Homo sapiens: one gene and its partners. The protein of the gene in region 1 purifies or fractionates together with the protein of each later gene. This does not show direct contact. Each region holds a gene or a part of one and is shown in the gene's direction. Other genes may lie near its edges.

Region 1 (4,546 bases):
CATAAAATAAAATACTTAAAAAACAGAGTCCAGAGGTAGTAATGGGGAACTGGGGAGAGAATCACTGAAAGATACCGTCCTGGCTACAAAATCACATGGAAGATGCAAGGAAATGGCTTGAGGTCCTCTACCCCACTGTCACTCCCCATACCCCCGACAAAAAAGATAACTAAATAAACAGACTGATGGATGGATGAATAGAAAGAGTGAGCAAGCAGTTGCTTGGATACATACTGATTCTGTCAATTCCTATGATTCTAAAACCTCTTAAGTAAACACTTTAGAAACTTTTCCAAAGTTTTGAGTTTTGTAAAAGAAAGAAAGGGAGGGAGGGAAGGTAGTTATATTCAGATTAGTATATATCTTCATATTCACAGTAAATATTAAATTATCTGAGAAATCCTAGATGAATCTGTTAATCGGTTCCTTTTGGTTTATGGATCCATAGAGTTGTTATATTTTTTACATTTTTATATTTAATTTCCCTCCCTCCAAAAAAAACTTTTTTATATTGACCTAGCCTGGTTTTTCTCAAGTTATTTCATTAAATCCTTTTTTAGTATGGGATATGTTAATTTTTTTTTGCTATAATATTATTCCAAAACAGTTTCAGATATGTGTCTCTATTTTCTCAGCAGCTCATTAACAGTAAGTAACCTCTTTAAGTTGGGCTATGTCCTAGGTATACAAAGTGCACAGTCTGTCTGCTCTGTCAAATATACTGGAAAAGCATGATTATTGTTCCCTTCTATTGTTCTAACCTTGGCTCAGTCCCCACACCCTACCCTGACATAACCTCTTAAATGGAATTGTAGTGAGCTGATGTCCAGATTATAGTTGAGCTCTTATGTTTTACAAATCAATGTTCTAGCTAAGTAGGAATAATAGCCTAGTCCAGCATTGTCAAATGAGAATATAATGCAAGCCACGTATGTTACTAAGTCTTCAGAAATCCAATGTGTATTTTACCTTTACAGTACGTATCAATTCAGACAAGTTCTCAGTAGCCACATTGGCTGGCTAGTGACTACTGTAATTGGATAGTGCAAGTGTAGTCAGGATATAAAAGGGAAAAAACGGAAGTAATTCATAGGAAAAGTGAGGAAGAAATTTTCCATTTGTTTTTTGGTTTTTTGTTTGTTTTTTGAGACAGGGTCTTGCTCTGTTGCCTAGGCTGGAGTGCGGTGGCACAATCTCAGCTCACTGCAGTCTCTGCCTCCCGCGTTCGATCAATTCTTGTGCCTCAGTCTCCTGAGTAGCTGGGATTACAGGCATATGCCACCAAGCCCAGCTAATTTTTGTATATTTAGTAGAGACAGGGTTTCCCCATGTTGGCCAGGCGGGTCTTGAACTCACTTCCTAAGGTGACCCACCTGCCTCAGCCTGCCCAGCCCAACAGAGTATTAAGCAACATCTTGGAAATTAACAGGAATAGTTTTATCCTCGTTTTATCAATAACTTAAGATGTTTACATTTAGGGTAAATGATCCATTTAAATTTTGATTTTTTTTTTTTGAGACGGAGTTTTGCTCTTGTCACCCAGGCTGGAGTGCAACGGAATGATCTCAGCTCACTGCAACCTCCACCTCCTGGGTTTAAGCAATTCTCCTACCTCAGCCTCCTGAGTAGCTGGGACTACAGGTGTGTGCCACTTATGCCCAACTAATTTTTTTTTTTTTTTTTTTTTTTTTTTTTTTTTTAGTAGAGACGGGATTTCACCATTTTGGTTAGTCTGGTCTCAAACTCCAGACCTCAGGTGATCCACCCACCTCGGCTTCCCAAAGTGCTAGGATTACAGGCGTGAGCCACCGCGCCCGACCAAACTGTTTTATATCTTGAATTTTGAGATTTAAATGTTTGAAAGAAGACTACTACCACTACTCTTAGTAAAACTACTAAATAGTCCTAAATGTTAAAATAACTGAGAGTTATAATATCACCTTCTAAATATTAAAGTACTGGGTTTTATCATTAATGTCTTCTGTATAGTCCCAGTATGGGAATATTCCTTTTTAAATTTGAAAACTTTTTAGTAATAAGGTACCAGGCAAGTTTTTATAAATAACATCAAATATGGTATTTTTCCTTTCCTTTTTAATGGGAAACAAAAGGAAAGTGGACACTTAAGTTATGCCTGTCCGAAAAATATGCTCGGAGAACGTGAGCCTCCAAAGAAGAAAGAAAAAAAGAAAAAAAAGAAAGCTCCTGAACCAGAAGAAGAAATGTATGTATATTATTCTTACTAAATACATCATCATGTTGCTTTTGTCTTTTGGTTGGTTGCTTTTGATTATTGGTTGGTTACATTCCAATTTGTTTTTCTTTATTTAAGTGAGGAAGTAGAAGAAAGTGAAGATGAAGGGGAGGATCCTGCTCTTGACAGCCTCAGTCAGGCCATAGCATTCCAGGTATTAAATTGTTCTTTTAAAAGGCATCATACAATAGTTGACTTGGTTTATAGTGCTTGCTTACTTCATTGATCACCTCATGGCAACCTCTCTTTTTCCCCCTAACCTCCTAAGCCTTAGGAGACAAGCTGTTTCTCTGAGGTACTTAGCCAGTGTGAATGAAAAGTTCCCATTGGTTCTTCCTAGATTTTAAGGGCCCCACAACACTTACTATCTTAATCTTTTTTCATTAAAGAAATGAGCAGAACTATTTGCTCAAAGTGAATATAGCCCAACAGAAAAGATTTTTTTAAGAAATTGCCTAGGATAATTTTGTGTAAGATTTTGAGATGAGACAGAACTCAGGGGAAGGGAGCAGATCTTATTGTCTGCATGGACTGGGAGGGTGGGAAGTAATGGCATTTGTGGTATGTTTTTGCCATGTTTTGAATTAATGAACCATAAATAATATTAAACAGGTTATTGGTTTTGTTTTGTTTTTTGAATCACAGCAAGCCAAAATTGAAGAAGAACAAAAAAAATGGAAACCCAGTTCAGGAGTCCCCTCAACATCAGATGATTCAAGACGCCCAAGGATAAAGAAAAGCACATATTTCAGTGATGAGGAAGAACTTAGTGATTAAAATCTTGCCCCAGCACAGTAATAAAAATCAAGATTTGTTAGTAACAATCTTGAAGAGCTAATTTTAATAAAAATAAGAAAAATTAATACTATCATGTTAATACTATTATTGTCATCCCAAGAAAAAAGATATTTTAAAAATTTATTTGAAAAGTTCATTATAAGGGCTTTATTCATGCCTGATTTGTTTACATGAGGACTTCTGAAATTAATCCTTAAAACAAACTTCCTGAAGACCGAAAAGTTGAATGATTTATTGTTACTTATATTAATAAACTTTTCAAGAGAATTTTGTCTTTAAATATGGGTGTTTTGTCATCATATTTCTTGTAGCTTTATCCCAATCTGGATAAATTGTAAATACCTATAAAATAAATTATAAATACCTATAAAATATAAAGTAACATAGCTCTAAAAGGCTTAAAATCAAACACAGGTGTTATTTGTCTGCCCTACCCATAGCACCAAATTCCATTCCCTAGAAGAAACTACTTACATGTGCACACATGTAGCTAAATAAAGTACATATATTTCAGTCACTTAATAAAAGAATAAAGGAGAATTATTCAATCTCTTATACTTCTCCTACCTTCCTCAATATTCCCAATGTGGCTGTATTAAAAATTTGGGGGAATCCATATATATCTTTTTTAATAACCAAGTAAATACTTTTCATTTCTGAGCCAAGGAATATGCTATGATTACGTTTTTTCCTAGAGTTAATAATTGTCTATTTTTTTTCCATGTATTGTCTTTGTATTTATGACTAAATCTTCCCATTCTGTCTGCAGGTGGGTATATGGTAATGGGATTAGAGAGCCTTTAATTTTCTGCTTTGTATATTTCTATATTGTTTAACTTTGTAAGAATGCCCATTACTTTTTTAACTAGTAAAAGCAATAGAAATAAGTTAATACTATCATAGTAATATTATTATTGTCATCCCAAGAAAAAATATATTAAAAAGATATTTGAAATTTCATTATAAAATCTTGTGTTTCCACTTTGAAAACTACAAAGTGTTAACCACCCACCAGCAAAGAATCTTCCAGATTGCAACAAGACAATGATTGAATGCAGTACTCAACCATCTGTTTGGCCATTAGTCAAATACCACAACAGTTTTGGTTTGTTTTTTTTTTTTAATTTTTATTCATTTATTTATTTTTGAAACGAAGTCTCACTCTGTCGTCCAGGCTGGAGTACAGTGGTGCGATCTCAGCTCACTGCAACCTCCACCTCCCCGGTTCAGACCATTTTCCTGCCTCAGCCTCCTAAGTAGCTGGGATTACAGGCACGTGCCACCACACCCAGCTAATTTTTGTATTTTTTTAGTAGAGTTGGGGGTTTCACCATGTTGGTCAGGCTAGTCTCAAACTCCTGACCTTGTGATCCACCCGCCTCGGCCTCCCAAAGTGCTGGGATTACAGGCATGAGCCACTGTGCCCGGCCTACCATTTTAAAGCAAATAATTGGGAAAAGATTTGCCACAAATATATAAAAGTTTCTATGAATA
Region 2 (4,781 bases), on another chromosome or scaffold:
ATGCACGATTCTTTCTAAAACATTTCTAGTAGTCTTAAGATGAAAAGAACCTAAAACCCTGTAGCCTTTATGTAAGATTAGAAAATTAGGGAATTCTTTTAAGTTGAGATCATCTTTTGGAGTTCTAAAAAACTAAAAATAGTTACTGAGTTCTTGGAAACTTGTTTTAAAGGAATAAGATTATCCAATTGGGTAACTGAACTTTATTGCAGATGTGAAAAAAGTTTCTTTGAAGCTAGAGATCTTCGCCAGCACATGAACAAACATCTTGGTGTGAAGCCATTCCAGTGCCAATTTTGTGATAAGTGCTATAGTTGGAAGAAAGATTGGTATTCCCATGTGAAGTCTCATTCTGTCACTGAGCCTTATAGGTGAGTAAATTTGAGAAGGAGCTGAACTTAATTGATAACGTGTGTACTCTGATTGTTATGGCTGCTACTTCTTTGGACAAAATAATTGGGTCTTTTCCCCTATTTTAGGTGTAATATATGTGGCAAAGAATTTTATGAAAAAGCTTTGTTCAGAAGGCATGTAAAGAAAGCTACCCATGGGAAGAAAGGAAGAGCAAAGCAAAACCTGGAACGGGTGTGTGAAAAATGTGGAAGAAAATTCACTCAGCTAAGAGAGTATAGGAGACACATGAACAACCATGAAGGTAACTATACTTTATATTATATGTATCCTTATAGAATAAAAGCCAGTCCAGTAGTGATTCTCCCTTTACCAGCTCTTTCACCTTCCTTGGTAAAAGGTTAATTTCATATCTTTATTCAAATGACAGAGGTGATCCTGAACCTGAGTACCTAATTATTGTGTATATAAATAGATTCCTTTTTTAGTGAACTTAATTCTGTATCCACATTGTTATGCTGAACTAAACTATTTGAAGCCTCTGCTTTGAAGGAATGAAGGAATAAATGAGTTTATGCACAGAAACTAAAATTTGTCTCAATCACATCTGTCCGCAGGAAGATCTTTAGAGAGATTTATAGTTCAGAATCTTGTTTATTCTTTTTTTTTTTGAGACAAAGTCTTGCTCTGTCACCCAGGCTGGAGTGCAGTGACGCGATCCTGGCTCACTGCAACCTCTGCCTCCCAGGTTCAAGTGATTGTCATGCCTCAGCCTCCTAAGTAGCTGGGACTACAGGCACCCGCCACCACGCTGGGCTAATTTTTGTATTTTTAGTAGAGATGGGGTTTCACCATGTTGGTCAGGCTGGTCTCAAACTGCTCAGGTGATCCACCTGCCTTGGCCTCCCAAAGTGCTGGGATTACAGGTGTGAGCCACCGTGCCCGGCAAAGAATCTTCTTTATTCTAAGGAAAGTCCTAAATAAAAGATTGCCACAGTCCAGATAGAAAGGCTTATGAGCTACTGTACTTTTTAATAAAAGGAAGTTTGGTAGGCAGTTTAAGTATATTTTGGTGCTTGCACCTCACTACACATGCTTTTTTTTTTTTTTTTTTAGGAGTTAAGCCATTTGAGTGCTTAACATGTGGAGTAGCTTGGGCTGATGCCCGATCTCTAAAACGCCATGTCAGAACACATACTGGTGAACGGCCCTATGTCTGTCCTGTATGTAGCGAAGCCTACATAGATGCTCGAACACTCCGTAAACATATGACTAAATTCCACAGAGACTATGTGCCTTGCAAAATTATGCTGGAAAAAGACACCCTTCAGTTTCATAACCAAGGAACTCAAGTGGCACATGCTGTTAGCATCTTAACAGCAGGCATGCAGGAACAAGAAAGCAGTGGTCCTCAAGAACTTGAGACTGTGGTAGTGACAGGAGAAACTATGGAAGCTCTGGAAGCTGTTGCAGCTACTGAAGAGTATCCATCGGTATCTACACTTTCTGACCAAAGTATTATGCAAGTGGTTAATTATGTATTAGCACAACAGCAAGGACAGAAGCTATCTGAAGTTGCAGAAGCTATTCAAACTGTTAAAGTAGAGGTAGCACATATTTCAGGAGGAGAATGAGTATGTTAATGAAGATAAAAAGAAGTGACATCTCTTGTACACTGAACTCACAGAACATTTGTTTACAATTCTGTGTGACTGTCTGCTTGGAGTTTACATATCAAAGTTCTGGGCTGTTTGGTAACGTAACGTTTCCAAACATTTTGTCTGGCCAATGGGTTCTATAGAAAAGTCCGTTTAGTGTAGAGAAATTGAAAACAGATCTATTAGGTTGGTGCAATTGCTTTTGCACCAACCTAATATTTGATGGCAGTGGTTTATCATGATATACCTTTTATGAATTAATGTTTATAAATGACTGTACTGAATTTAAAACCGTACAGTTTCATTTGCATTTTGACATTACTTTATTATACATTTTGCATTTAAAAGGCTGCACCAGTTGGCTTTTCTTCTGTTTTATTCTCAAAATATAGAGATTCTGTGATTTATTTGCCCTGTTTATGGATTAAAAAGAAAATTCTAATATAAAGCATTTCAATAGGATGCATAGGTATATTACGTTTTTTAAATGCTTTAGATCTGTGATTCTTGACTTACTATTTATTTTATCCCCTTTTAAGTCAGGGATGCTTTATTCTATTTTAAAGCACTTATGAGTTACATGTTGTAATCAAGTTTGCACAATATATTTATCTATATGAGGAACCCATAAATGAATAGCTAATTTTTAAAATGCCATTAAAATGCATGAAATGCTTATTAAAACCTTACTATACTATTTCTTCAAGGCAAGTAAATTGACCATGAGAAAAGAACACAGTTATTAAACACTGTTGACAGGAAAATTCTCCTTGATAACATAGGACAATTAATGGAAAAAAAAATTCTCATTATTTGCAAAGAATGAACAAGTTAATGAACAAACAAACTAGATTTGGTATGTTTTCAGCTTTTGTATCATGTTTAATTGTTTAATTTGGTTGAAAAACTGCAGTTGAGAAATCAGATAGCAATATAGACATTCACAGCAGCTCTGTGGATACCATGTAATTGTCAGGTAATTTCAGAATGTTGAAAATTATTCAGTGCAGCCCTCATAGTATCATACTTGAAGAAATTGATTACAGTTCCACTAAATTGTTGAAGATAAATTATTTTTAAAGGTTATGAAAACTAAGTTATATTAATTCATATGTTTGATTTTTAAATCCCACCTCCTCAAGCTATCCAATTTTCTGACTTTGAAAATAACCATGAGAGATGCCACATTTCTCTCTGGGAAACTACCACTCAAAGAATAATTGTTAAAAATTAAGCTTTTAGGTATTAGAAGCTGTTATAAAGTATAAAATTAAGATATAAGCAGATCACATGTAAATCATTCCTAAAGCACAAGAAAAGAATGTGCCTTGATGTACATATATTACTAAGTTGCCTCTCCCAGTTTACTTTAAAAATGGCTTTAAGGATAAAGAATAAATGTGATAGCTGTGCATGCATTATATATTTGCATTTGCAAATTTCCCATTGTTTTAACAGCTGTGTGGCTGACTTTCAATTTTAAGACGTGAATTGACATACAGCCCATAACTTTATAATGGCTGCTCATTTATCTTATCTTTCAGTTAGTGGAAAAACATTTCAACCTGACTAAAATTTGGAATTGTGTCTTTTATGTTCCATCCTCTGTTGTTACTAGATTTAGTTTAAAAATTGTGTATGACCATTAATGTATGTCATAAACATGTAAATAAAAGATGTTGAATCTTGTTGAAAAGCATGAACTTTGGAGTTGAGCTTGTTACTATTTTCAGTTCATAAATCAGTTGTTACTTGATGTGTTATTAAGTTAATTTATTTTTAAAGGGAAAGGAAATAAAACACTAAAAAATAACGATTGGAGGAACACAATATTAAAACTTCTTACTCTTACATATAATTGATATGGACAAGAGGCAAGGAAATAATGGGTAGAAGAGGGCAGTTCCCCAGCAAAAGCCTGGAAACCCATGGCCCTAAATGGGAACAGGCATTCCTGTTTTCATGCCCAAATGTTGCCTTTTGGCCCACCACGCCCTCCTATCCTGTATCCATATAAACCCTAAACCCCAGGCTCCATGAGCAGAAGAGTGTTGCGGCAGAGGAGAGAAGAGAGGAGCATCTAAACGTCCAGAGGAGTTCAGCTGGGGACGGTTGGAGAGGAGATCATCTTCCCACTCCATCCCCTTTCCAGCTCCCCATCCATCCTGCTGAGAGCCACCTTTATCCAGCAATAAAATCCCCTGCATTTACCATCCTTCAATTTGTCCATGTGACCTGATTCTTCCTGGACGCTGGACAAGAACGCAGGTACCAAGAGGGCACTGAGCTAGTTAACACTTAAGCTATCTGTAGACAGCAGAGCTAAAGGAGCCCTGTAACATTCCCACTGGGGCTTTGGGAGTTGCAGACACCCCCCACCAGATGCTACTGTGGGGCCAGAGCCCAAAAGCACTCAATCCAGCTCCTGCACTTGCCCATCTGCATGCTTCCCCTCCTGTAAGGGGTTTGGGTGAACAAATGAGCCACACCCCTGTCTCATGTCCTGTGAGGATATCTGGGAACTTCCTTTTCATAATCTTGTCACAGGATTATATATTGTGCCATCAACCATCAGCTTTGAATAATGTAAATTTGTAAATTATATAAATTCCATGTAGAAACAAATGTTAAGAAGGTTCCAAAAATTCAGTGCAGTTTTAATGTTACCAAGAGGGCATTGTTAATTTATAACAATTCCTTTTTAGAAACATAAAGCATATTGCTGTCATGAGATGACTTCCAAAAACTATGGGTGTCTCCTGATCAAATATG
Region 3 (7,649 bases), on another chromosome or scaffold:
ACCTCCGCCTCCTGGGTTCAAGCGATTCTCCTGTCTCAGCCTCCTGAGTAGCTGGGATTACAGGTGCGTGCCACCAGGCGCAGCTAATTTTTTTTTTTTTTTTTTTTTTTTTGAGACGGAGTCTCGCTGTCGCCCAGGCTGGAGTGCAGTGGCGCAATCTCGGCTCACTGCAGGCTCCGCCCCCTGGGGTTCACGCCATTCTCCTGCCTCAGCCTCCCGAGTAGCTGGGACTACAGGCGCCCGCCACCTCGCCCGGCTAATTTTTTATATTTTTGGTAGAGACGGGGTTTCACCATGTTGGTCAGGCTGGTCTTGAACTCCTGACCTCGTGATCCGCCCACCTCAGCCTCCCAGAGTGCTGGGATTACAGGTGTGAGCCACCGCGCCCGGCTTTTTGCCTTTCCGTTTCAATGGCTCATCTGGTCAGTCCTCTACCACTCTAAAAAGATTTAACTATTGGCGGAGAGCAGGAGCTCACGCCTGTAATCCCAGCACTTTTGGAGGCCAAGGCAGAAGGATCCGTTGAGCCCAGGAATTCGGGACCAGCCTGGGCAACAAAGCAAGAACCCCAACATAAAAAAAAAAATCTGTATTTAAAAGCCAAACACAAATAACAAACAAAAAACACCAGCCTGGGCAACATAGTGAAACCTCATATCTACTAAAAACACAAATTAGCCGGGCGTGGTGGTGCGCCCTGTAGTCCCAGCTACTCGGGAGGCTGAGGCAGGAGGATCACTTGAGCCCGGGAAGTCGAGGCTGCAGTGAGCTGTGATCGCGCCACTGCACGCCGGCCCGGGTGACAGGAGTGAGACCCTGACTCAAAAATAAATACATATATAAATAAAAATTAACTATTGTCTCTGGCCCCAGACCATAGGTGTCCCTGCAGCAGGGGCCGACTGGCGTGCTCTCCACTCGGGCCCCTCTAGGAGGTGCTAAGTAAATATTTGAACGAAGACCTCTGAGTCCCTGTCTGGCTGCGACTATGTCCTCTCAGGCCTTCCCACGTGGCAGCTGCAGGCTCCTTTCCTGCTGGCTCAGTCTGAGCCCGGCAGGGTGATCCCTTCCTCATCCACTCCGTCTCTCCGTTTCCCTTTCTTCACGGTGCTTGACACTATCTAATATTATTTGGTTGTTTGAATGTGCGCGTCCAGCTCCCAGGACGCTCCCTGCACACAGTGAATGAATAAATGAATGAAATAAAGCGCCCAGCTCGTAGTAAGGGCCAATGAATGTCTATTAGTAGTGGAACCTCGGATTGGGTGGCTCCAGCCCTGCCTCCCTTCCCTCAGGAGGCGCCGAGGTCCCAGAGCAGCCCGCGCGACCCTGCCCCTGACCTTTCTCCCTGGGTCAGTTAAACCAGCCTTCTTTCCCGCCTGCCGGGTTCATTTGAAAACCGAAAACCCCGCCATTGCCGGCGGTCCACCGGTTGCCACACTCTGACCAATCAGGAGCGACGCGTTTCACGCCGAGCCCGAAGTTTCCCCGGCGACGCGCAGCCACTGGTTATGCAGGCCCTGTGGGCGGAACGCCGTAAGGTCGCGCGCCGGGCAACGCGGTGCCGCTACACAGTAGCGAGTTTGTAAGAAAACAAATCAGTTGCGTTCGGGGCGTGGCCGGGAGCACGTTGGCTCCGCCCCCTGGCGGCTGCCTCAGCGGCGGCGGCGGCGCAGGCTCAGAGCAGACCCCGCCCGGCGAGGAGGAGGGAGGGTGAGTTAGGGGGAGACCCGGCCCCCAAGGGGCGGGCGCCGGGCAGGGCCCCGCGGGCGGCCGAGGGTTGGGCCCGGCTCCCAGCCCCTCGCCGTCCTCCGGCTGACAGGGGGAGGAGCCCGCCGGGAGGGCCGGGGTCTCGGGCTGGGGAGCCGGGACGGGAGAGCAGCGCAGCCGGGTGCACCGCGGCCGCGCCCCGGGAGGGCTGTTCGGGCCAGCGCCCGCCGGCTGCTCCGCGCTGACAGCGCCGGGCTGGGGCGGGGCGGGGGGCTTTGCAGGCCGCCAGTGTCGACATGCTGCTGGAGGAGGTTCGCGCCGGCGACCGGCTGAGTGGGGCGGCGGCCCGGGGCGACGTGCAGGAGGTGCGCCGCCTTCTGCACCGGGAGCTGGTGCATCCCGACGCCCTCAACCGCTTCGGCAAGACGGCGCTGCAGGTGAGGCCGGGCCGGTCCAGGTTGGGGCGGGGCGGCTAAGCGGGATGAGGATCGAGACCCCAGAGCTCCTCTCTGGTCTCCTGGCCCTGGTGGTGACCCACTGGGAACCGGTCCTTCTTCTCTAGGCTTTCATTGTTCCCCCACAGTCCCCCTTCGAAGGTGGGTGGTGGGTGAGGCTAGGTTGTGGGGGGAGGGGAGAGCTTTTTAGCATCTTCTCTGGGAGGATTCCTGGTTCTCTGAGTGCCGGGGATTCACTTTCCCTGGGGAGGTTCTTATTCCGTGGGTGCGGGTTCAGCTCCTTTGGATGCCGTTTCCATGGGGACGGCTCACGTTTCTTGGGGCTTCTATGGGGAGATCCGATCTCTGGAAGGAGAGGTCCTGTCTCTAGGGGTTCCTCATTTTGTAGGGGGCTCTCTGAGACAAATCTGGTTACTTGGGGGTGGGGTCTTCATTCCTAAAGGTTATGCGGATCCTTGATATAGTATGGGGGCCCCAATGGAGGAACAATGTCAGATTGCAAGACATCCCTATATTCCCTGGGAGACATTTTACAGGGAAGTCTCGTTTCTCTTTTATTATTACTTTTGGAATCCCGCTTCTTGAAAGGAGCTCTCAGGTACTCTGAGGTGACATCACCATTATGTAGGAGGAGGCTATTTCCTGGAGAAGGGGTTCGCTTTCCTTTGACATCTTTTTTCCCTTATGAGGACTATCAATTCTTTGGGGGTAGTTCTCCATCTCTGGGGGCCCATTTCCTGGAGGGGATTTTCTGTTTCCTGGTGATTGCCCATATCTGGGGGCGTCTTTGGTCCCTTGGGGGAGAGTCTTAGGTTCCTTGAAAGTTTCCATGGGGGGCTGTTCTCTGGGTTGGGGGGTCTCATTCTTAAGGGAGTGACCAGCTTTTGGGGGGGGTCCCTATTCCCAGAAGAACTTTCCTGGGGGCTTATGCAGCTTCTCCGTTCACTAGAGGACCCCTCCTCTAGCATTTCCTGTTTCTGGGAGATGCCTCTTTCTGGATGACCCTTCTCTTTCCAGTGACCCCTTTTGTGGAACCTCCTCCCTTGAGGACCTCCTGATCCTCTGTCCCTCACACAGGTCATGATGTTTGGCAGCACCGCCATCGCCCTGGAGCTGCTGAAGCAAGGTGCCAGCCCCAATGTCCAGGACACCTCCGGTACCAGTCCAGTCCATGACGCAGCCCGCACTGGATTCCTGGACACCCTGAAGGTCCTAGTGGAGCACGGGGCTGATGTCAACGTGCCTGATGGCACCGGGGCACTTCCAATCCATCTGGCAGTTCAAGAGGGTCACACTGCTGTGGTCAGCTTTCTGGCAGCTGAATCTGATCTCCATCGCAGGGACGCCAGGGGTCTCACACCCTTGGAGCTGGCACTGCAGAGAGGGGCTCAGGACCTCGTGGACATCCTGCAGGGCCACATGGTGGCCCCGCTGTGATCTGGGGTCACCCTCTCCAGCAAGAGAACCCCGTGGGGTTATGTATCAGAAGAGAGGGGAAGAAACACTTTCTCTTCTTGTTTCTCCTGCCCACTGCTGCAGTAGGGGAGGAGCACAGTTTGTGGCTTATAGGTGTTGGTTTTGGGGGTGTGAGTGTTTGGGGGACGTTTCTCATTTGTTTTTCTCACTCCTTTTGGTGTGTTGGACAGAGAAGGGCTCCTGCAGGCCACAGCCACCTAAACGGTTCAGTTTCTTCTGCGCCTCAGGCTGCTGGGGCCTCAGACGAGACCCAAGGGCAGAGCATTTAAGAGTGAAGTCATGACCTCCAGGGAGCCTAGAAGCTGGTGGCCTTGGCCGGCTGTGCTCAGAGACCTGAAGTGTGCACGTTGCTTCAGGCATGGGGGGTGGGGGGAGCGTCCCAAATCAATAAGAAGGTAGAATGAGTTATGAGTTATTCATATTCTGTTGGAAGCTTGTTTTCCAGTCTCTTGTACAGCGTTTTAAAAGAAATGGATTCTATTTATTATGCTTTATTGGAAAAAATGTTGTAATAATTTAATGTTTTTACCCATTAAATTAAGACTTGTGCATGATCACAGCACGGGTGGCTTCTGATTTTTGAGTCTGGGATGGAGAGTTACACATCCCGGATGTTGATGGGGATGAGGACGGGGGTCGCGGATCGTGGATGTGGTGGGTGAGGGGAGAGAATAGTAATTCCCAGGGCGCCAGGGTGAGTGAGCTGGGTGGGGCAGCGGTTTTCGCTGTCGGAACGGAAGGGAAGCAGGAAACCGCGAGTGGAGAAAGGGCCCCCAGATGTCAGCTGGGTGCCCGGAGCACAGGGGGTGGGGCGGGTGGGCGGTGGCCGCGGCCTTCCCCGCAGGGGCGTAGCCGTGGGCGGTGACTGCGGTGATGAGGCGAAAGGGATCCCGGAAAAGCCAGGGGCGGGGTTAGCAGCGGTACGCCTCGTTTACAAGTGGATGCGGGCGGGACTGAGGGCGGCCCCGCCCCGTCCAGGGCTTCCTCAATGCGCGTGCGCAATGGGCCACAGAACCGCCATGCCGGAACCGCGCGGGTCGTCGCAGCTGCGGGTGAACGCGGCGTTTGCCGCGCGGTACAACCGCTACCGGGAGCGCGAGGAACTGCAGCGGCGTGAGTGCGGGGCGCATGCGCGCGGGAGCCTGCGCGCGCCGGCCGGTTGGGAAGTGGGGAGTCGAGTGGCCCCGCCGGCTGACCTGGGGGGGGGCATCCCGTCTGTGTCCCGCAGTGAAGGATCGCTACGGGGACCGAGACAGCAGCAGCGACTCCAGCTCCGAGTCGGACTCAAGCGACGAGCGCGTGGTGCGCGTCCCCGCCCCGTCCTGGACGTGCGGAGGCGTCCAAGCCCCCCTCTGCACCCCGACCCCGATGTAGACGGGGGGGAACCCCCAACCCCAGAGCGCCCTGCGGGAGCGTCCCATCCTCCGCTCCCCATCCCATGAGGGACAGACAGTGCCCCCCCTCTCCCCAGGGGAGCCAAATCCCCGTTATTTTCTCTCCCCTGCCACGATCCCCACCTGCCCACTCTGATGTGTGGGGCGACTCTGTCCCCCAAGAACCCCCCCTTTCCTCTTTCATCCTCAAGAGTCTAGCCATTTTTTAGTGTACTCCTTGCGCCACGTGGGGCGCCCAACTTCTCACATCAGCCCTGATCCTGGCCCCACTGTGCGGCCTGGCCCAGCCCCTCCCCGCTGTCTCTCTTGTGCCCTCAGCCCACCTGCCCCTTGTCAAGTCTTTGTCTTCCCCAGGAATTACCTTCTCCTTGCCCCTCACCTTCCTCTACCCATATCCTGTACCTACCTGTGGCCTGCCCCTGCCCACCCCAAGAGGGCCCCTCTCCCTCCTGCTGTTTGACCACCTGTTTGACCTCCCCAGCCAGATCCACCCCCCTCCATCCTAATCCCTACGCTGAGCTCACCTGCTGGCGCCAGGGCTCTTATTATCTCCCTTCTGAAATCTATCCCCAACCCTTTTCCTGCCCTAGGAATTTGATCCCCAGCAGGAGCGGGACTTTTACAAAACGCTCTCCTTGTTGAAGAAGAAGGACCCCCGCATTTATCAGAAAGATGCCACCTTCTATAACAGAACAGGTCCGGGGCCACTCCTGTCTAAACCTCTCCTTCCTCTGGAGCAGAATCCGGGGTCCTTTCCTGACTGTGGATTCAGAGAAGTGACTTGACTTCTCTGAGCCTCTTTTCCTGTCTGTAAAGTATATCTAACGGTAGCATCTCCCCTCAGGGCTGTTTTAAGGATAGATTGGGATTTACCCAGTTTACACAGTTCATCTGTTTTGACTATTGAATGAATTGCTTCACAAGTCACAAGTCCTTAGCAGAGCCTAGGTTATTACCTGGTGGTGGAGTTAATGACTGTGTCCTTGGCACTATTCAAGGTGGGAATTGCTGACTGAATGATTCCAACTCCACCAGGCTGGGCAGGTGGTTCAAGCATCTAATCCCAGCACTTTGGGAGGCTGAGGTGGGAGGGTCAATTGAGGCCAGGAGTTTGAGACCAGTTTGGCCAACATAGCAAGACCCCATTTCTCTTTTTTTTTTTTTGAAATGGAGTTTCACTCTTGTTGCCCAGGCTGGGTTGCAATGGGACGATCTCAGCTCACTGCAACCTCCGTCTCCCAGGTTCAAGCGATTCTCCTGCCTCAGCCTCCTGAGTAGCTGGAATTACAGGCACGCGCCACCACGCCCAGCTAATTTGGGATTTTTAGTAGAGACAGGGTTTCTCCATGTTGGCCAGGCTGGTCTCGAACTCCCAACTTCAGGTGATCCGCCCACCCTGGCCTCCCAAAGTGCTGGGATTACAGGCGTGAGCCACTGCGCCCAGCCAGCCTTTCTTTCTTTTTTCTTTTTTTTTTTTTGAGACGGAGTTTTGCTCTTGTTGCCCAAGCTGGAGTGCAATGGCATGATCTGGGCTCACTGCAACCTCCGCCTCCCCGGTTCAACCGATTCTCCTGCCTCAGCCTCCGGAGTAGCTGGGATTACAGGTGCGTGCCACCACGCCCAGCTATTTTTTTGTTATTTTTAGTAGAGATGGGGTTTCACCATGTTAGCCAGGCTGGTCTCGAACTCCTGACCTCAGGTAATCCATCCGCCTTGGCCTCCCAAAGTGCTAGGATTACAGGCGTGAGCCACTGTGCCTGGCGGCAAGACCCCATCTCTACAAAAGATTCAGAACTCAGCTGAGCATGCTGGTGTGCGCTTATAGTCCCAGGTATTTGGGAGGCTGAAGTGGGAGGATTGCTTAAGCCCATGAGTTCAAGGCTGCAGTGAGCTGTGGGCTAGGATGTTGACACTGCACTCCAGCCTGAGCAAGAGTAAGACTCCAACTCTCAAAAAAATTAATTATAATAATTAATCAGGCTGGGCATGGTGGCTCATGCCTGTAATCCTAGCACTTTGGGAGGTTGAGGCGGGAGGATCACTTGAGGTCAGGAGTTCGAGACCAGCCTGGCCAACATGGTGAAACCCCATCTCTACTAAAAATAACAAAAATTAGCTGGGCGTGGTGGTGCACACCCGTAATCCCAGCTACTCAGGAGGCTGAGGCAGGGGAATCGCTTGAACCTGGGAGGCGGAGGTTGCAGTAAGCCAAGTCACGCCATGCACTGGGCAACGGAGTGAGACTCTGTCTCAAAAAAATAATAATAATGGCCGGGTGCGGTGGCTCACGCCTGTAATCTCAGCACTTTGGGAGGCCGATGCAGGCAAATCACCTGAGGTCAGGAGTTCGAGACCAACCTGACCAACATGGAGAAACCCCATCTCTACTAAAAATATAAAAATTAGCCGGGCGCGGTGGTGGGCACCTGTAATCCCAGCTGCTTGGGAGGCTGAGACATGAGAACAGCTTGAACCCGGGAGGCAGAGGTTGCAGTGAGCCGAGATCATGCCATTGCACTCCAGCCTGGGCAACAGAATGAGACTCCACCTCAAAAAAAAATAAGTAAATAAATAATAACAACAATAATAATAATCAAAGCAGGAATTACTGACT
Region 4 (7,154 bases), on another chromosome or scaffold:
GTGAGCCGGCCCCCCTCCCATGGCCCTGCTGTGGCTCCCCAGCTCCAGTCGGCTGCACGCACACCCCTGCTCCGGCTCACACACGCCCTGCCTGCCCTCCCTGCCCAGCTGTAAGGACCGGGGGTCTCCCTCCTCACTACCGCCAGACACCCCGGTGGAAGCATTTAGAGGGGACCACGGGAGGGACAAGGCTTCTCTGTCCGCCCTTCACACCTCCAGCCTCACGTTCACTTAGGCACATCACACACACACTGGCACACGCAGGCATCCATCCATCCGTCATTCATTCAAATATTTATTGAGCACCTACTATGTGCCCAGCCCTGTTCTAGGCACTGGGCATTACCATAGAGAACAAAATAGACAAATACATCTGCCCTCATGGAAGGTGACGTTCCCAGGAGAGGGCACCTACACAGTCACGCAAACACACACTAATTCCTGGCAGGGCCCCCAGCCCCTCCCCTGGCTGAGCAGCCCTGTGGCTGAAATGACTAGCAGATAAACAGACCCCCTTCTGCTCCGCTTCCTCCTGCCCAGCCAGGCAACACCCTCAACCGGCTCCATCACATCCTCAGGTCTCGGGACCATGGGGGGCTCAGAGGGGAGACACACCTACTGCTTCCTCAGATGGGCCCCTCCGCAGCCCCTTCCCTTGCTCGGGGAAAGCCCCCAATTCTGCCCACACCCATTTATTTCCTTCCTTCCTTCCTTCTTTTCTTTCCTTCCTTCCTTCTTTTTTGTTTTTGCCCCCAATTCTGCCCATACCCATTTCTTTCTTTCCTTCCTTCCTTCTTTTTTGTTTTTGCCCCCAGTTCTGTCCACACCCCTTCCCTTTCCTGTCCTGTCCTTTCTTTCTTTTTTGATAGAATCTTGCTCTGTCGCCCAGGCTGGAGTGCAGTGGTGAGATCTCAGCTCACTGCAACCTCCACCTCCTGGGTTGAAGTGATTCTCGTGCCTCAGCCTCCTGAGTAGCTGGGACTGCAGGCACGCGCCACCACGCCCAGCTAATTTTTGTATTTGAGTAGAGACGGGGTTTCACCATGTTGGCCAGGCTGGTCTCGAACTCCGCATCTCAGGTGATCTGCTCGCCTTGGCCTCCCAAAGTGATGGGATTACAGGCATGAGCCACCGTGCCCGGCTTCACACCCATTTCTTTAAAAAGGATCCCGTAGCAGGCAGAAAAGCCCCTTCCATCCTGCTCCTCTGATACTGTGCCCCCTTGGAGATATTTCCGTCCTCCACCCACGTGTCTGTGGCTGGAACTGCCCAGCCTGCTCCTGGCCCCCTGGAAGCCTCCCCACAGCTGGTAATCTGGACTTAAGGATTGCTGGGCCACCGCCTCTCTGCCTACCACCATTCCATATTTAAGTGGAGCCCCTACGTAGAAAGGCCCCGGGGCTTTATTTTAGTCTCCTTTTCAGGGATGTCGTGGGCGGGGGAGGGGGTTCTTGGTGCTACAGCCCTCTCCCCACCCCTAAAGGGACGCCGACGCTGTTTGCTGCCTTCACCACATATTAGTGCTTGACCCTGGCAGGGGACCCCATGGAAAAGATGGGGAAGAGCAAAATACATGGAGACGACGCACCCTCCAGGATGCTCGCTGGGATTCCCACGCCCACCACTGTCCCCCACCCCATGGCTGGGAGGGGCCTCTGAACGGAACAGTGTCCCCACAGAGCGAATAAAGCCAAGGCTTCTTCCCATGTGGCAGTGAGGCTGGCTTGGGACAGGGATCGCCCGCCCTCCCCCAGGGAAAGAGAGACCTGGGCAGGATTTGGGGTGGGGGGAGGCCCCCTTCCGTGCTCTCAGGGGCGGGGTGGAGTCCGTGACTCAATGCAGCGAGGCCTGGTGACTCAGGCCTGGGCTGGGGGCCAGAACGGCATATTTTCCGAGGAAAAGTGACTCTGGGGCCCTCCCCCCGGGACATCCCTTCCTCCCACCTCCCGCGGCGGGGGCCTGGGAACCAAGCCCTGGGGCGCGCGCGGGGTGTGTGTGTGTGTGTGTGTGTGTGTGTGTGTGTGTGTGTATTCGGGCACGAAGTGCTCTCCCAGCTCCCGCCCTGCCCGGCAACGTGCCCTTGCACAACCTGGGTACATAACTCCCGACGCGTAACACCAGGAACACGCTGGTTTCTGGTTGGGGAAGTGGTGACCTTGCCCACACGGGCTGCCAGGAGTGTGCGCGCGCTCACGCACCGGGGACTCTTGGCCAGAGCTGGGCAGCGCACCGTGCGCGCCGAGTCCCGCGCACTCACATCCAGGCCACACCCACGGCGTCCCGGGACACGCTGGCCGCGCACTCATCCCGCCCACGCGGGCCCAGTTTCGCGGCTCGCGGCGCCCCCTGGCGGACGCTCAGAAAACAGATAGGCTGTGGTCGCCAAAATCCCTGCCCAGGTGATTCGGCGCTCAGGTCTCGGGGCTGCGATCCAGGGCCTGTCACCTTTAGGGCCTGTCACCTTTCCAACGCTCTGCGCAAGGATCCAGTTGAATTTCGCTGTGTGACCATGCGTGTGTCGCCTGCCCTCTCTGTGCCTTTTTCCTTTATGAGTCCAGAGTGGCTTTTATGAGGCCTGGATTCCTTTGATTTGATTGTTTTGTTTTTGAGACAGGGTCTTGCTCTGTCACCCAGGCTGGAGTGCAATGGTGCAATCACGGCTCACTGCACCCTCCAACTCCTGGGCTCAAGCGATCCTCCCACCTCAGCCTCCCGAGTACCTGGGACTACAGGCGCACACCATCACGCCTGGCTAATTTTTAAATTTTTGGCAGACACAGGATCTCACTATGTTGCCCAGGCTGGTCTTGAATTCCTGGGCTCAAGCGATCCTCCTGCATCGGCCTCCCAAAGTGCTGGGATTAGAGGCGTGAATCACCACGCCCTGCCATGGATCCCTTTGAATGGCTGCCAGGGCCCAAGAGCCTCTGAGCTTCCTTCCTTATTTGTAAATGACAAAGATGAGTTGATTCTAAGATGAAGCCTCAGAGGGCAAGGCAGTAACAATAGCTAACACTCAGATGCCAGACGCAGCCTTAAGCGCTTTACATATGTTTAATCTTCTGCATGACTTATGACGCAGATGTACTGTTATCATCTTTATTTTACAGATGAGGAAACTGAGGCACAGTGAAGTAGCCCGCTCAAGATGAATGATTCTGAGTCTGCACTTCTAGGGTCCTAAAAGTGTATGTTTCTAACATTCCTCTAATGTTCTGTGCTTCCAACTTTGATATTCCGAAAGTTACTTGATTTCTAAGATCCTAGGATTGGAACATTTGAGAGGACAAAACTTCTGAGATTGGAATGTGTGTTGTGCGGAATCTGCCACTGACGGTTCTGACTTTCTAAGAAAACGAGATTAAAAAATAATCAGGCCGAGCATGGTGGCTCACATCTGTAATCCTAGCATTTTCGGAGGCTGAGGAGGGAGAATCACTTGAGCCCAGGGGTTCAAGACCAGCCTGGACAACATAGTGAGACCTTTGTCTCTTAAAAAAAAACACACACACATCAGTTTGGACCGGGAGTGGTGGTGTGAGCCTGTAATCCCAGCGCTTTGGGAGGCCTAGGAAGGAGGATCACTTGAAACCAGATGTTTGAGACCAGCCTGGGCAACATGGGGAGGCTCCATTTCTACAAAAAATAAAAATAAAAAATTAGCCAGGTGCGGATGCACCCTTCTGTGGTCGCAGCTACTCGGGAGGCTGAGGTAGGAGAATCCCTGAGCTTAGGAGTTGGAGGCTGCAGTGAGCCATTACCCTTCCACTGCACTCCAGCCTGGGGGCAACAAAGTGAGACCTTATCTATTAAAGAAAAAAATCAGTTTGAGCAAAGACCCCAGGCGGCCGGGAAAGGTGTTCGCTTAAGGGCGAAAGCTAAGAACCTGCAACCTTCCCGTCTCTTTCCTACCACCCGCCGCCGTTAGGAATCTTCAGATCCCGCTGTAAAGAATGGAGGAAGGAGGAGCCATTTATCCTTTACCAAGATGGCAGCCTCCTGGCAACTCCAGTCACTTTATAAATATGGCTGCCACAGGAAGTACGTCACGGAAGAGGGTGGGAAATCTGCGCGCGCACGCTGCAAAGGGGCTTTTTGGGACGCCAGTGGCTGAGTTCTTCCTTTGACAAGATGGCGGCAGGAGGCAGTGGCGTTGGTGGGAAGCGCAGCTCGAAAAGCGATGCCGATTCTGGTTTCCTGGGGCTGCGGCCCACTTCGGTGGACCCAGCGCTGAGGCGGCGGCGGCGAGGCCCAAGAAATAAGAAGCGGGGCTGGCGGCGGCTTGCTCAGGAGCCGCTGGGGCTGGAGGTTGACCAGTTCCTGGAAGACGTGCGGCTACAGGAGCGCACGAGCGGGTACGTTGGGCGGGACTTCCGGGAGGTGGGACGGTTCCTGCGCCCAGGTGCAAGGCCAGGCGTGCTTGCGTGGACTCGTCGGGGGTCGGGGGTCGGGGGTCGGGGGTTGGGGGCTCCTGTCCCGGGGACCGCCGAGGAAATGGAGAGCATGGGCAGGGGACTCAGCATGGGAAGCTGGAGAGCTTGATAGAGTTACCAGATTTAGCAGATAAATATACAGGACGCTCAATTAAATTTGGATTTTAGGTAAACAATGAATAATTTTTAGCATAAATACGTTCCATGCATCCACCTTAGCTTGCTGTTTTCTAAATATGTGTGTGTGTGTATGTATATATGTGTGTGTATATATATGTGTATATGTGTGTATATATATATGTGTATATGTGTGTGTGTATATATATGTATATATATATGTTTTTCAGACGGAGTCTCGCTCTATCGCCCAGGCTGGAGTAGGCGCGATCTCAGCTCACCGCAACCTCCGCCTCCCAGGCTCAAGCGATTCTCCTGCCTCAGCTCCTTAGTAGCTGGGATTACAGGCGGGCGCCACCACGCTCGGCTATTTTTCTTTTCTTTTCTTTTTTCTTTTTTTTTTGAGACGGAGTCTTTCTCTGTAGTCCAGGCTGGAGTGCAATGGCACGATCTCGGCTCACTGCAACCTCTGCCTCCTGGGTTCAAGTGATTCTCCTGCTTCAGCCTCCCAAGTAGCTGGGATTACAGGCATGCACCACCACGTCCGGCTAATTTTTGTATTTTTAGTAGAGACAGGGTTTTGCCATGTTACAGGCCAGGCTGGTCTTGAACTCCTGACCTTAGGTGATCCACCCGCCCCGGCCCCCTAAGGTGCTAAGATTACAGGTGTGAGCCACCACACCCAGCCTAATTTTTGTATTTTTAGTAAAGGCAGGGTTTCACCATGTTGGCCAGGCTGCTCTTGAACTCCTGACCTCAGGTGAGCCACCCGCCTGGGCCTCCCAAAGTGCTGGGATTACAGGCGTGAGCCACTGCGCCTGGCAGTCCTTCCTAAATACTAAGTTCTGTAAACTGCTGGGCGAAGCCTTAGCCTGGAAGAGTCCGGTGGCGGGACTTGACTAAGCGGAAGATGAAGGCTGGACCTGCCAGGTTAAATCTCTTTCCTCTCCAACATCTCTGGCTGATGTTCTGCATTTCTGTCCCCCAGTGGCTTGTTGTCAGAGGCCCCAAATGAAAAACTCTTCTTCGTGGACACTGGCTCCAAGGAAAAAGGTGAGGAGAGGCTTTTGTGGTGTGGAATGGCGGTTATTCATTGTTAGTCAGCTTACGGTAGCCTCTGAGATCTGTGTTAATGATGTGGCTTGGAAGGCAAATATCTGCGGAAACAGGTCAACCTTAATATAAACAAGGGGACCTCAAATGGGCAGAAAGCAAGCTGGAGACGAACTTAGAGAAGGCAGGTTTTTCTTTTGAGATGTCAGTGATCTCCATGCACAGATAAGCTGCTGGGAGTCTGCCTTGATGAATAAGTTAGAAACACATTAAAGGATCTCTTTTTAGCTTGCAGAAAAGCAAGTCAAGGACCTGCTTAACTCAGTCCTGCCGGTTGCGGTGAGTCACGCCTGTATTCCCAGTACTTTGGGAGGCTCAGGCAGGCAGATCACCTGAGGTCAGGAGTTCGAGACCAGCCTGGCCAAGATGGTGAAACCCCGTCTCTGCTAAAAATACAAAAATTAGCCAGTTGTGGTGGCGGGCACCTGTAATCCCAGCTACTTGGGAGGCTGAGGCAGGAGAATCACTTGAACCTGGGAGGTGGAGGTTGCAGTGAGCCGAGATCGCGCCGCTGAACTCCAGCCTGGGATTACTATTATTTTTTTGAGACAGTGTTGCGCTGTCATCCAGGCTGGAGTACAGTGGTGTGATCTCAGTTCAAGCGATTCTCCTGCCTCAGCCTCCCAAGTAGCTGGGACTGCAGGCTGCACCATCAAGCCTGGCTAATTTCTTTTCTTTTCTCTCTCTCTTTTTTTTTTTTTTTTTTTTTTTTTGAGATGGAGTTTCAAGCCCAGGCTGGAGTGCAATGGCGTGATCTCAGCTCACCGCAACCTCCACCTCCCAGGTTCAAGCGATTCTCCTGCCTCAGCCTCCTGAGTAGCTGGGGTTACAGGCATGTGCCACCATGCCCGGCTAATTTTGTATTTTTAGTAGAGATGGGGTTTCTCTATGTTGGTCAGGCTGGTCTCGAACTCCTGACCTCAGGTGATCCGCCCGCCTCGGCCTCCCAAAGTGCTGGGATTACAGGCATGAGCCACCACGCCTGGTCAAGCCTGGCTAATTTCTGTATTTTTAGTAGAGATGGGTCTTCATCATGTCAGCTAGGCTGGTCTCAAACTCCTGACCTCAGGTGATCCACCCGCCTTGGCCTCCCAAAGTGCTGGGGTTATAGGCGTGAGCCGCTGCGCCTGGCCAAGATGAGCTTTAATAGGAATAAGAGGACTTGCTTTAGTGAGCGGGTAACACACGTCTTAACTTGCTTGCCTTAAGTTGCTAGAATGTAGGGTGGGGATCTGCTGAAACAAGATGAGGCGTGAGGGAGGGATTGCTCTGGTGAGTAATAGTGTTTACTTCAATATGTAGAAAAACAAACTAAGAACAGATGATCTGCTCTAATGAACAGCCTGGAAGCAAGCGAAGGGGTCTGCTTTAATGAGCAAGAGAGTGAGCTTGTGTGAGATCAGTCAAAGGGTATGTTTTAATGAAAATGAGCGGACCTGGTTCAGTGACCAGATAGAGTGGAAGGAGCTGCCCTGAGGTACAGGAGACTTC

What was found.
Region 2: the proteins of ZCRB1 (region 1) and ZBTB11 purify together in Homo sapiens (co-immunoprecipitation; 3 studies listed by BioGRID and IntAct, with this or other methods). This does not show direct contact.
Region 3: the proteins of ZCRB1 (region 1) and KRI1 purify together in Homo sapiens (co-immunoprecipitation; 3 studies listed by BioGRID and IntAct, with this or other methods). This does not show direct contact.
Region 4: the proteins of ZCRB1 (region 1) and NOP53 purify together in Homo sapiens (affinity purification with mass spectrometry; 2 studies listed by BioGRID and IntAct, with this or other methods). This does not show direct contact.

Annotation. Positions count from the first base shown.
Region 1 is NC_000012.12:42,311,552-42,316,097, reverse strand, and holds the end of ZCRB1 (zinc finger CCHC-type and RNA-binding motif-containing protein 1), read left to right. Parts: intron 1-2,111; coding exon 2,112-2,224; intron 2,225-2,332; coding exon 2,333-2,408; intron 2,409-2,899; coding exon 2,900-3,031; 3' UTR 3,032-4,012; downstream 4,013-4,546.
Region 2 is NC_000003.12:101,648,370-101,653,150, reverse strand, and holds the end of ZBTB11 (zinc finger and BTB domain-containing protein 11), read left to right. Parts: intron 1-212; coding exon 213-371; intron 372-479; coding exon 480-655; intron 656-1,467; coding exon 1,468-1,985; 3' UTR 1,986-4,262; downstream 4,263-4,781. UniProt on the Homo sapiens protein: May be involved in transcriptional regulation.
Region 3 is NC_000019.10:10,563,011-10,570,659, reverse strand, and holds the start of KRI1 (protein KRI1 homolog), read left to right. Parts: upstream 1-4,649; 5' UTR 4,650-4,660; coding exon 4,661-4,754; intron 4,755-4,769; coding exon of another isoform or gene 4,770-4,869; coding exon 4,870-4,943; intron 4,944-5,625; coding exon 5,626-5,731; intron 5,732-7,649. Other genes in the region: CDKN2D (cyclin-dependent kinase 4 inhibitor D), read left to right, coding at 2,007-2,147, 3,243-3,602.
Region 4 is NC_000019.10:47,741,429-47,748,582, forward strand, and holds the start of NOP53 (ribosome biogenesis protein NOP53), read left to right. Parts: upstream 1-4,117; 5' UTR 4,118-4,131; coding exon 4,132-4,355; intron 4,356-5,538; coding exon 5,539-5,603; intron 5,604-7,154. Other genes in the region: EHD2 (EH domain-containing protein 2), read left to right, coding at 1-4. UniProt on the Homo sapiens protein: Nucleolar protein which is involved in the integration of the 5S RNP into the ribosomal large subunit during ribosome biogenesis. In ribosome biogenesis, may also play a role in rRNA transcription.